Linked DNA regions of Homo sapiens: region 2 is reported to be linked to region 1. Evidence: microRNA targets listed by miRTarBase, many of them from high-throughput screens and not tested one by one. Region 1 holds a microRNA gene; the other region holds the end of a gene's coding sequence.
The links. The annotated mature microRNA hsa-miR-30b-3p reads CUGGGAGGUGGAUGUUUACUUC and lies in region 1 at 2,292-2,313, opposite strand. An mRNA with a match to its seed (bases 2 to 7 or 8) in the 3' UTR can be bound and repressed. Matches are read on the target gene's strand: a 7mer-m8 pairs with bases 2 to 8, a 7mer-A1 pairs with bases 2 to 7 and ends in A, and an 8mer does both.

Region 2: miRTarBase lists GEN1 as a target of hsa-miR-30b-3p. Seed matches in the 3' UTR shown: 7mer-m8 at 3,333-3,339 and 7mer-m8 at 3,165-3,171.

Annotation. Positions count from the first base shown.
Region 1 is chr8:134,798,241-134,803,479 of GRCh38, forward strand. MIR30B (microRNA 30b) reads right to left here and starts at 2,367; the gene lies at 2,280-2,367. It also overlaps a transcript of ZFAT not described here.
Region 2 is chr2:17,781,245-17,786,483 of GRCh38, reverse strand. GEN1 (GEN1 Holliday junction 5' flap endonuclease) reads right to left here. Exons shown (of 14, transcript NM_001130009.3): 14 at 1-5,239. The coding sequence ends at 4,545. The region is part of intron 3 of LOC105373449 (a long non-coding RNA gene); the gene reads left to right. Among named protein-coding and RNA genes, the nearest start is that of GEN1, 30 kb to the right of the region's middle.

The sequences.
Region 1 (5,239 bases):
GAAAAAAGTTCAAGTTTAATTTCAGAACATATCCCAAAATTATCAAAGACATCCAATTTTACATTATGTTATCTATTAATACCAAATGGCAATATGGTAAACAAGAGGGGAAAACTGAGACATTTTAACATATATCCAGATTTCATAACATTTAAAACTGATAAGCACACATTAATCAGAAAATATGTGATTAGAATATATTTACTAAAATTCTGTAACAATTCTAATAAATATACAGTGTTTTAAAAAATGAAGGCATGTACCTTCCTGTAAGGGTGGGAGACAGCTAACTGTAAGTAGAATGTTTCACTGCATTAATTCAAACAAGAAAAATACTCAAATTTTCACTTAAGTACAACATAGTTTCATGTATAGCTTCTTCTAAGAGACAAAGTGAGGCAAATCTGATAGCCCACATGATCAAAGACCTTATTACATAATCAGGAATGTATGTAATATAAAGATATAAACATATGGCCATTAAACAAGAAGAAAAAAGGCAATGAATTAAACACTAGAATTAGGAATTTAACCTACAGGCTATTTTGTAGCCTAAACCACATGCATATGCTGAGTATTTTTCACATCTAGCATATGAAAGAAAAATTCTATATTTTATGCACTGAGGTTCAAAAACAAATTGATGGGCAATTCCCAAATATGCTTAATTTGGGAGAAAAACACTTCATAAAACTACCTTTACATTATATGCTTTGTAATGCATTGCAATATGTTTCTCAAAGTACTATAAATTATAAAATAATGTAAAAATTTGGCAAGTTTCAAATTAACATGTGGAGCTCACTAAAACATAGTATGCTATGCACCTAAGTACAGAATAAAACAGCTCTCTCGTAATGACAAAGAAAATTAACAAATTATTCATTAAACAAATAAAATATATAATTAGAAAAACAGCACTCACCTTCAACAAGTCTCCATGCTTTCATTTCACATTTTTATTTAATCATGTATTTCTCATAACATTTAGACATCTTCCACAGGAGCACCAAGCATGAATTCTAATTCTGGATTTAGGCACAGGCAAGAGCATACAGACACTTGCCAAGCTGCTAGGATGTGTGTACTTCTTACATAATTTTCGTTTTATACTTGTTTGTTTTGCTTTTCACCTATACAGAATGTGGATGTATCACCAAAAAAAGAAAAGGCAGGCTGATTTCATGGAACTGAAAAACAAAGCTATAAAAAATTAATTTTCAGTATTTTAAGTAAAGACATGAAAATGGAAATAACGTTTAGACCAATCAGTACATATATAGAACTAATTATCAGGTATTAGCTTATTTTTAAATTGTTACCTCATTTAGTCTCAACAATCCTATCAGGTAGGTGCTATTATAATTTCAATTTAGTCGACTGAGGAAACTGAGGCACAGAGAGATTAATAACTTCCCCCAAAGTAACATAGCGAAGTAACTCGCAGAATCAAGATATGAGCTCCAGAAGCTGGGATTCAAAATTCTTTGCCACTATATTACAACAATATCAAAGATTCAAAGCATTTCCATTAAACCAAAAAGTTGGCATCATCTTTATTGCAAAAATAAAAACAAGTTATGTCTGCTTTAAGCATTATGGCAACTATTTACTGAACACCTACAACACAGCATTAATAATAACTAGCATTTATTGAGTACTTAATATGACAGGTACTGTACTAATGAACAACTTTATATTCATCATGTAAGTCAATCCATGCAATCACATACTTATTTTACAGATGAGAAAACCACTGAGGTATGGAAACAGTGCCTTTCCCTCCTCCAAATCCCGTAGCAAATTCACTTGTGGAGTCCAGATGGCAACAAATGTCTGATGTCAAAGCCCATGCTTGTTAAAGCACACTGCAATACTACAAACCCGACCCCAACTACCAAACAAGGGCATTCTTTTGTCCCAATACCCAGAGCCTTATGTCATGTTAGTGCTATAGCAAAATTGAAAAGATACAATAAAAATTTAAATTGAGTAACAAATTTAAAGGAATTTTAATAAATTTAGAGTAATTTTTCCTCTATAAGCATACTGTTTTTCTGTTTTAACTACTCCTACTGCAACCATGCTTTCTTCTGCTTTTCTCTGCAAACATATTCAAGTAGATCCCTGCCAGCTAGACAATTAACACACTTTTTCTCTGGGAGAACAAAATGGTCTCACATTTCCAACAAACCTTTAATTACATTAATTACATTAAAAATTCAAGCCTCTGTATACTATTCTTGCCAAATCTTTTATCAATGTTAATTGGTTGACATTCCAAGTCAGCTGAAGTAAACATCCACCTCCCAGCCAATCCATGTATTACAGCTGAGTGTAGGATGTTTACATGAACTGAAACTTGGTTTAAAGCAGGACTTAAACTCTTTACTAAGTTTGTACGGTTCTTTACGTAAGACTCTGTTGAAAAAAAGAACAGGCACAGCATTCACATAAATGAGGCAAGACTCAATCGGAAAGATATCCTGAGAGAAAGTGTAGAATCCAAGGAAAAGGCAGAAGTGAGTTGGGTGTTTGTTTTTTTGGAAGTGGGGGCGTGTCCAGGGCAGTGGGGGGCACTACAGGCACGCTACTATGCCCGGCTAATTTTTCTTATTAATAAAATTTTTTTTAGAGACAAGGTCTCACTATATTGCCCAGGCTAGTCACAAACAAGTGATAACGTTTTTCACCAAAGGAATTTACAACAATAAATGCCGACATCCTGTAGTGTTCCATATCTAAATGTAGCTGATTATCCAGCCTTCCTATATCCTTCCCTTCAAAACAATCAAACTTGCATTTATAAGAACTTACTTGATGACCAGTATGATGCATCAACCAATCTTCATTAAGAAGATTCCTCCTTTAGGTAAAAGACAGTTAATGAAACACTGTGAGGAGCTTAGTCATCTCTCCTCCCCCTCAACCCTCTCCTCATCTTCTCCCCCACATTCAGAATTCAGATAATTTCATCTCAGGCACATCTTTCCCACACTCTGATCTCTTTCCACCTTCTACTGTTCCCAGTGTCATTAAGGTGTCTCAAAGAAATGTCTCCCCCTCTTTTTGCATTCTTTCTGATTAAAAATATATTCCCACAAATATCTCCACTAACTATTATCAGTGGTCCTACCAACACACTTGCATCAAAGAAGAGGAAATCTTCAAATTTGGAAGTAAAACTACATATAATAACCACTGCCAGCAAACTTTAAAAATCTTTGGCATTTCACAGGTAACCCAGGACTTTCAGGAACCTCGCCAGTCTCTACCTAGTCTCTTGTCCCTTCGGGCTGTTTTCCAAAAGCATTGGTTCTCAAGATTAAATACACATATACCTCCCCGCCACCCCACTCTACAACCATACTGCTTTTCTGTTTTAACTACTTCTATTACAACCGTATTTTTTTCTTCTGCTTTTCTCTGAAAACACATTCAAATAGGCCCCTCCCAGCTAGACAATTAATATACTTTTTCTCTGGGAGAAAAAATGGTCTCACATTTTCAACAAACCTTTTTATAATCAAACTTCTGGATTAATACATGTTTTTAAGTTAAGGATTTTTCTGTTTTACTTCATGTATTAATTGGGCATAATATCTAGCAGGAAAAGAATGTAAGATGAGCTCTGTGATTCTGAAAGCATGGGCCTAGAGGAGCAGCATCAGCAGTACTTGGGAACTGTGGGGGGAAAAGCACATTCTTATGTTCCACCCCAGACCTACTGAATCAGAAACTTTTTTTGCAGGGCCCAGCAATCTGTGTTTTAATCAATAAGCCCTCCAAGTAATTCTGATGCAAGCTGATATTGAACAGCAATGGACTGTTTCACCAAACCTGTTGGAAAGCTAAAGCAAAGACAGCAGTGAATGTCAAATTACTAGGAAGTTTGTAATATGGTACAGATAAGAAAAAGGCAATGCCAAAACATGTAGCATGGGTCCACCCACAATTAACCAGGCTAGGCAAAGTGTGGCAGAGACTATCTGAAACAGCCTTATTTTAAAAAGTAACTAAGCCCAAACTGATATTCAAACTAAAAAAAAGAAACAAAAATATTACCTGAGCACACACAGCAAATAATGCACATTGATCCAATGAATAAAGCTGTAACAAGAGTAGAAGGGAATCACAGAACATGCTCGACGCAATACCACATGCATGCTGGGGTTTATAGGTTCACAGTCCATTTCTGGGTAACCTCAAGCCCATGACTCATGTAGAAGGAACTGAGGTGTGGAGATCAATGAGAACAAGTCCAACAGTGTATTTATATGACTATTTCTAACCAAGAATATTTGTACAAAAGCATCTAATTTGAAATAAATTGGAAGACCCAATTTTGTAATTAGTTATTTGCTTTAAAAAGTTGTCCCTAAGTCATTTCAGACCATATACTCAGGATAAAATACTGTCATTTACAGAATGGTGTTCAGTAACTAAAAATGTTTTACTTTAAATATCAATTGGTAGAACAAATCTTAAATAATAAGTAATTTCTGTGCTTTCTAAGTCCTATCAATGAATACCACAATTTTTTTCTTCAACACTAAGTTAAGGGCTAGGGAAACAAGTTATTACAGGCTTATTGACAAATACTGATGATCTAACATTTCAAGCCATTTGCTATAAATAATCAATTGCTAACCTTATAGGCCAATGGGAAGTTAGTGGTTCTTCAATATAAAAACATAAAGAAGCCATCTGAAAACTACTAAAAAAGGCTGTACCTATGTATTATACTATACTGAAGCAAGGGCATCCAGAATTAAAACTGACATCGTCTTTGATTCACCTCATTAGAGGCAGAATAATATAGAACAAATGTTACATAACACAGATTGCCCCATTAATCTGTAGCATCTAGGGATAACTGGCCTAGCTGGGCAGAGTATAACAGCTTTATTATAAAGAATGCCTACCCCCTCATTTAGCTTAGGTTTGGCCTTATCATTTTGAAAAACCTTTCAAATTTCACTGCATAAATTATGCATCCATCTTACTAAATTTTAAAGCAGTATATCAAAATTTTTCATAAGAAATAAACAGTGTCACCTGGTCAAACAAAATAATCCTATTACCACAGAACACATTACATTCTACCTTTGGCAGGGAAGACTTCTGAGCTCAGCAATAACTATCCTTTCACTGCTATTTGAGTCTAAGGTTTCCAATGTGCTAAAACAGAGGGCCACAGAATATGCAATAAATCTGCTTTATTTAGAGTTCATAGGAA
Region 2 (5,239 bases), not on the chromosome of region 1:
ATGTGGTAGGTGATTAGATGAATATTAGTTACCACATTATATTTAAGCAAGCACAATTTTTTTCCAGTAGCTCAAATGCCACGTTAGGATCCCTTGTGTGATGCTAATCTAGAGTTTCCTTCTTCTGAAAACACATCTCCCACCCTCACACTGCCCCCTACTAGTGTTACTGTGTCCACATTTTTACCAAAAGGCAGTGCTTGGCTGCATTCAGTTTGAATCCAAAATCTGATAGTGCTCTTTCCAAATGATGGTATCGGACACAGCTACAATTTACTGAGTCCCTAGAATGTGTCAATGGTGGCAGTGACTTCACAGATATCAAAACCTTATAGGATGCCATTGATCACTGTATCTCCAGGGCCCAGCACAATGCCTGTCACATAAACATTTGAATAAATGAGTCTCAGAAAAGTTAGAAAATGTCTCCAGGGTCACAGAGAAAATCTGTTAGCAGAAAAGAATCTGAAGCTAGGTATGCCTGACAAGATGGCTCAAGCCATGCTACCCAAAAGGAAAAAGTAGAGTCCTCATTATAAAATCTAGAAGACGGAGATTGTATATTTTTTTTTAATTTAAATTTTAATTTTTTTTAGACACTTTTTCGCCCATCCTGGAGTGAAGTGCAGTGGCACTATCTCAGCTCACTGCAACCTCTGCCTCCCAGGTTCAAGCGATTCTCCTGCCTCAGCTTCCCGAGTAGCTGGGATTACAGGTGCACGCCACCAGGCCCCACTGATTTTTGTATTTTTAGTAGAGATGGGGTTTCACCATGTTGGCCAGGCTGGTCTTGAACTCCTGGCCTCAAGCAATCCACCCGCCTCAGCCTCCCAGCGTGCTGGGATTACAGGCACGGCCACCATGTGTGGCCAGATAGAGATTTTATATGGAAAAAAATCTAAAAGAAAAACCGCCAAGGACTTAAGATTGATTACACAAAGCCCAAAGCAGTTAGGCCAGAGCAGGGCCTTAGCATGGAGCCATCAGAAAGAAACCAATTACAGGATCCTAGCAGCTGGAGGCAGATCTTTGGCAGAGTATTTCAAAGGGAAGCAAGGCATCCTCAACAAGACAATGAAGTGATGAGCAAATACGTAAGCAGCAACTTAAAAGATTTGATTTACAAGTGATAACATGACCACATCAAGGAACAAGAACATGGAATGCTTTAAAAAGAATTGGTATAACCTGGACAATGAAAACAGAGAAATCCTTGAGGAGGAGGAACTATAATTTTACACTTATGCCTATATTAGGTATATCAGCAGTCCCCAACCTTTCTGGCACCGAGGACCACTTTCGTGGAAAACAGTTTTTCCACGGATGATGAGGGGGAGATGGCTGTGGGATGAAGCTGTTCCACCTTATATCATCAGGCATTAGATTCTCAGTAGGAGTGCACAAACTAGATCCTCGCATGCGTAGTTCACAATAGGGTTCATGCTCCTATGAGACTCTAATGCCACCGCTGATCTGACAGGAGGCAGAGCTCAGGCGGTAATTCTCGCTTGCATGCCGCTCAACACCTGCTGTGCAGGCCGGTTCCTGACAGGTGATGGACTGGTACCTGTCCATAGCCCAGGGGTTGGGGACTCCTGAGCTATATAGCAAAATGAACTCAGACTGGCCACTCCCAACTAATTTTGTTATTTTCATCTCATACAATCTCAAGAATGCCTCTAGATATTTTATTTACCTGGTCTAGATGGTCCTGAACTATCACAGCCACGACTGAACAAATCAGAATAAGCAGAACCTTGGAAAATGTTTTAGCAACGACTTTTTTCTCTCTGAATATTCAAAACATTGCAATACAGTCCTTAAAGAGTTGAGATGATACAAGGTTTGTAAATAATCTAGTTGAATGCTTAGCACACAATAGCTAATACACATTAGTTTCTCCCCTTCCTCATTCTGGAACTGGGATTGTTTCCACTTTTAGGCTATTATGAATAACGCTGCTATGGACATTTGTGCACAGGTTTTTATGTGGATATAAGTTTTCATTTATCTTGGGTATATACCTGGGAGAGGAATTGCTGGATCATATCGTAACTCTACATTTAACCATTTGAAGAACTACCAGACTTTTTCCAAAGTGGCTGCCCCATTTTACATTCCTACCAGCATGTTATGAGAATTTCAATTTCTCCACATCCTCATCAATACTAGTTATTATCTTTTTGATTGTAGACATTGGGTGTCTTGTGGTTTTGATTTGCATTTTCCTGATGAGTAATAGTACTGAAAATTTTTAAATGTGCTTCTTGGTCATTTGTATTTCTTCTTTGCAGAAAAGCCTGTTGAGCTATTTTGCCCATTTCAAAGTTGTCTTTTTATAATTGAGTTACGAGTTCTTTATATACCACCAAGATACAAGTCCCTTATCACATTTATGATTTGCAAATATTTTCTCCCATTCTGTAAGCTGTCTTTTCACTTTCTTGATGGTGTCATTTCAAACAACAGTTTTTAGTTTTGATGAAGTCCAGTTTGTGTATTCTCTTTTGTTGCCTATGCTTTGGGTATATTTAAGAAATCCTTGCCTAATCCAAAGTCACAAAGATTTACGTCTATGTTTTCTTCTAAGAGTTTTATAGCTTTAGCTTACATTTAGGTATTTGATCCATCTTAAGTTACTTCTTAAATATCATGTGAAGTAGGAATCAAATGTCACTCTTTTTTACATAGATATCCAATAGATCCAGAAGACAGTTGGTTCAAAGACTGTTTCCTTTTCCCATTGAATTGTCTTGGCACTCTGGTTTAAAATCAACTGACCATAAACGTGAAGGCTTTTTTTCTGAATTCTCAATTCTATGCCATTGATCTATATTGACCTATATGTCTACCTTTATACCAGTACAACACATTCATTACTGTAGTTCTGTATACTTAAAATCAGGAAGGGTGGGTCATTCAAACTCTTTCAAGATTCTTCCTAATATTCTGTGTTCCTGAAATTTCCATATGAATTTTAGAATCAGCAAAGAAACCAGCTGGAATTAATGGGAATTACATTTAACCTGTAGATCAGTTTGGGGAGTATGGTCATCTTATGTCTTCTGATTCATGAACATGGAATGTATTTCCATTTATTTAGAGGTGTACAGAAATACAATTGAGGCTGAGTATGGTGATTCACACCTGTAATCCCAGCACTCTGGGAGGCCAAGATGGGTGGATCGCTTGAGGCCAGGAGTTCATGACTAGCCTGACCAACAAGGGAAAATCCCATCTCTACTAAAAATACTAAAAATTAGCCAGGCATGGTGGCACACACCTGTAATCCCTGCTACTCAGGTGGCTGAGGCATGTGAATTGCGTGAACCTGGGAGGCAGAGGTTGCAGTGAGCCAAGATGGCGCCACTACACCCCAGTCTCGACAAGAGTGAGACTCTGTCTCAAAAAAAAACAAACAAACAAAAACAAAATGCAATGATCATTGCACATTGGTCTTGTATTCTACGACCTGGATGAACTCGCTTTATCAGTTTTAATAGTTTTCTAGTGGATTTCTTAGAATTTTTGATGCATACAATCTTGTCATCTGCAGACACCATTTTCCTTTTCAATCTGGATGCCTCTCTAGAATTTTTGAGTGCGACCTAAATTAATGCATGACTTAATATTTGGTGGTATTAAAGTCAATATTGCATAGATTCAAAACAAAAGGGGGAAAAGTGCTATAGAAGGAAAAAATAGAAAAATAAAAAAATTAGCAGGCAAGAAAACTGATTCCCACAGGATTATTAGTTAGCTACGTGATCCTGGGCTAGTTTCTAATCCTTTTGGTTATACATTTGATTTTCCAAATCTTTTTCCACCCGATATACCTGTGAACTTCTGGGGATACATAAGGAGTTACTTTGCTCAGTTTATTCAGCCATTACGAGCATGATTTTTACTAAACATACTGACATCTTCTCTCCTTTTCTATTTTTGCCCCTCAAAAGAGACTAAGACACCAAAAGTGGAAGAGCACACTAAAGGTATCTTCAAACTGAGGGAGAATATAACTCTTAGGAAAAAGAGTTATAATGGAACACCTTGCATGGCCTTCCAAAGTGGAAGAGCACACTAAAGGTATCTTCACACTGAGGGAGAAAATAGCTTTTAGGAAAGCGAGTTATAACGGAAGACCTTGCAAGGCCTTAAAAGAATGAAGAGAAGTATAAAGAATTATCCTCTTGGGAACAAGCTGGAATATAAATACTTTAGAGGCTTGTGGAAGAAAAAGTAAAAATGAACAATCAGATGAAGTATTTACTCTGTCAAGTACTATACCAATATTTTAAAACTACAATTAAGGAATAGTAAGGACATAATGACATACATTATCAGAAGTTTTCAATACAGAGGATCTTTTAAAACCAGAGTTTTAGGTGACTTTTTAAAAATTACAACTTTGATTAAAATGGCAAGTGTTTCATGACACAGAGAACATTAAAATTTTTACCACACATGAACTAGATACCTTCCCTCTGTCTCTGCTATTGCTGATAGTACTAAAATAGTTAAGTTATACCTAAGTGTTTTAAATTTCAAGTGCTTTGGAATCTTAGTTTTAATCTCTGGCGTAAAGGAAGAGGGCTATCCAAACAAGTACCAGAGTTGTTTTCTTTCTTATGACATTGTAGAGAACTCAGAGAACTTTTTGTTGAATCTGGGAAACAGCTTTCTTCATTTTCAGCTGTTTCATAAGATCTGACACACTGTTCAGTTTCTTTAATATGTATCTTAGGGCTACTCAACTTGTTATGGCCACTTTCTTTGAAATGGGATGAATTATGCTTTTGAGAACTGTGCTTCATTCTTTGAGTTGTGTACTTAGCTTTCCCAAACACTGGGGCACTTTGTTCATCAGAGGAATGTCTGTCAAGGCAAACACTCTTCTTCATTAAAATTTTCCGAGTGGTTTGCATATCAACTTTTCTACTATGATCTAAAGCAGTATTTGGTGGTCTAACATTGCAGGTCTTTACCACTGTGTTACTGACAGAATAAGGGACAGAAGTATTGACTTTATAGTCTTCTTGAAGCAGCTGGTCTCCTTTTAGAATTTTAGAGTCTCTGGATTCATTTTGCAAGGGAATTCCTGGAAGATCCTTTGAAAGATGTGATGTACAATCAGAACCACTGTTAGCAATACAAGATTCTTTTACACTAAGTATGGACAAAGTTTTCAGGTTGACATCTGGTTGTAGATTATCCTGAGGATATGATAATTTTGTAAATA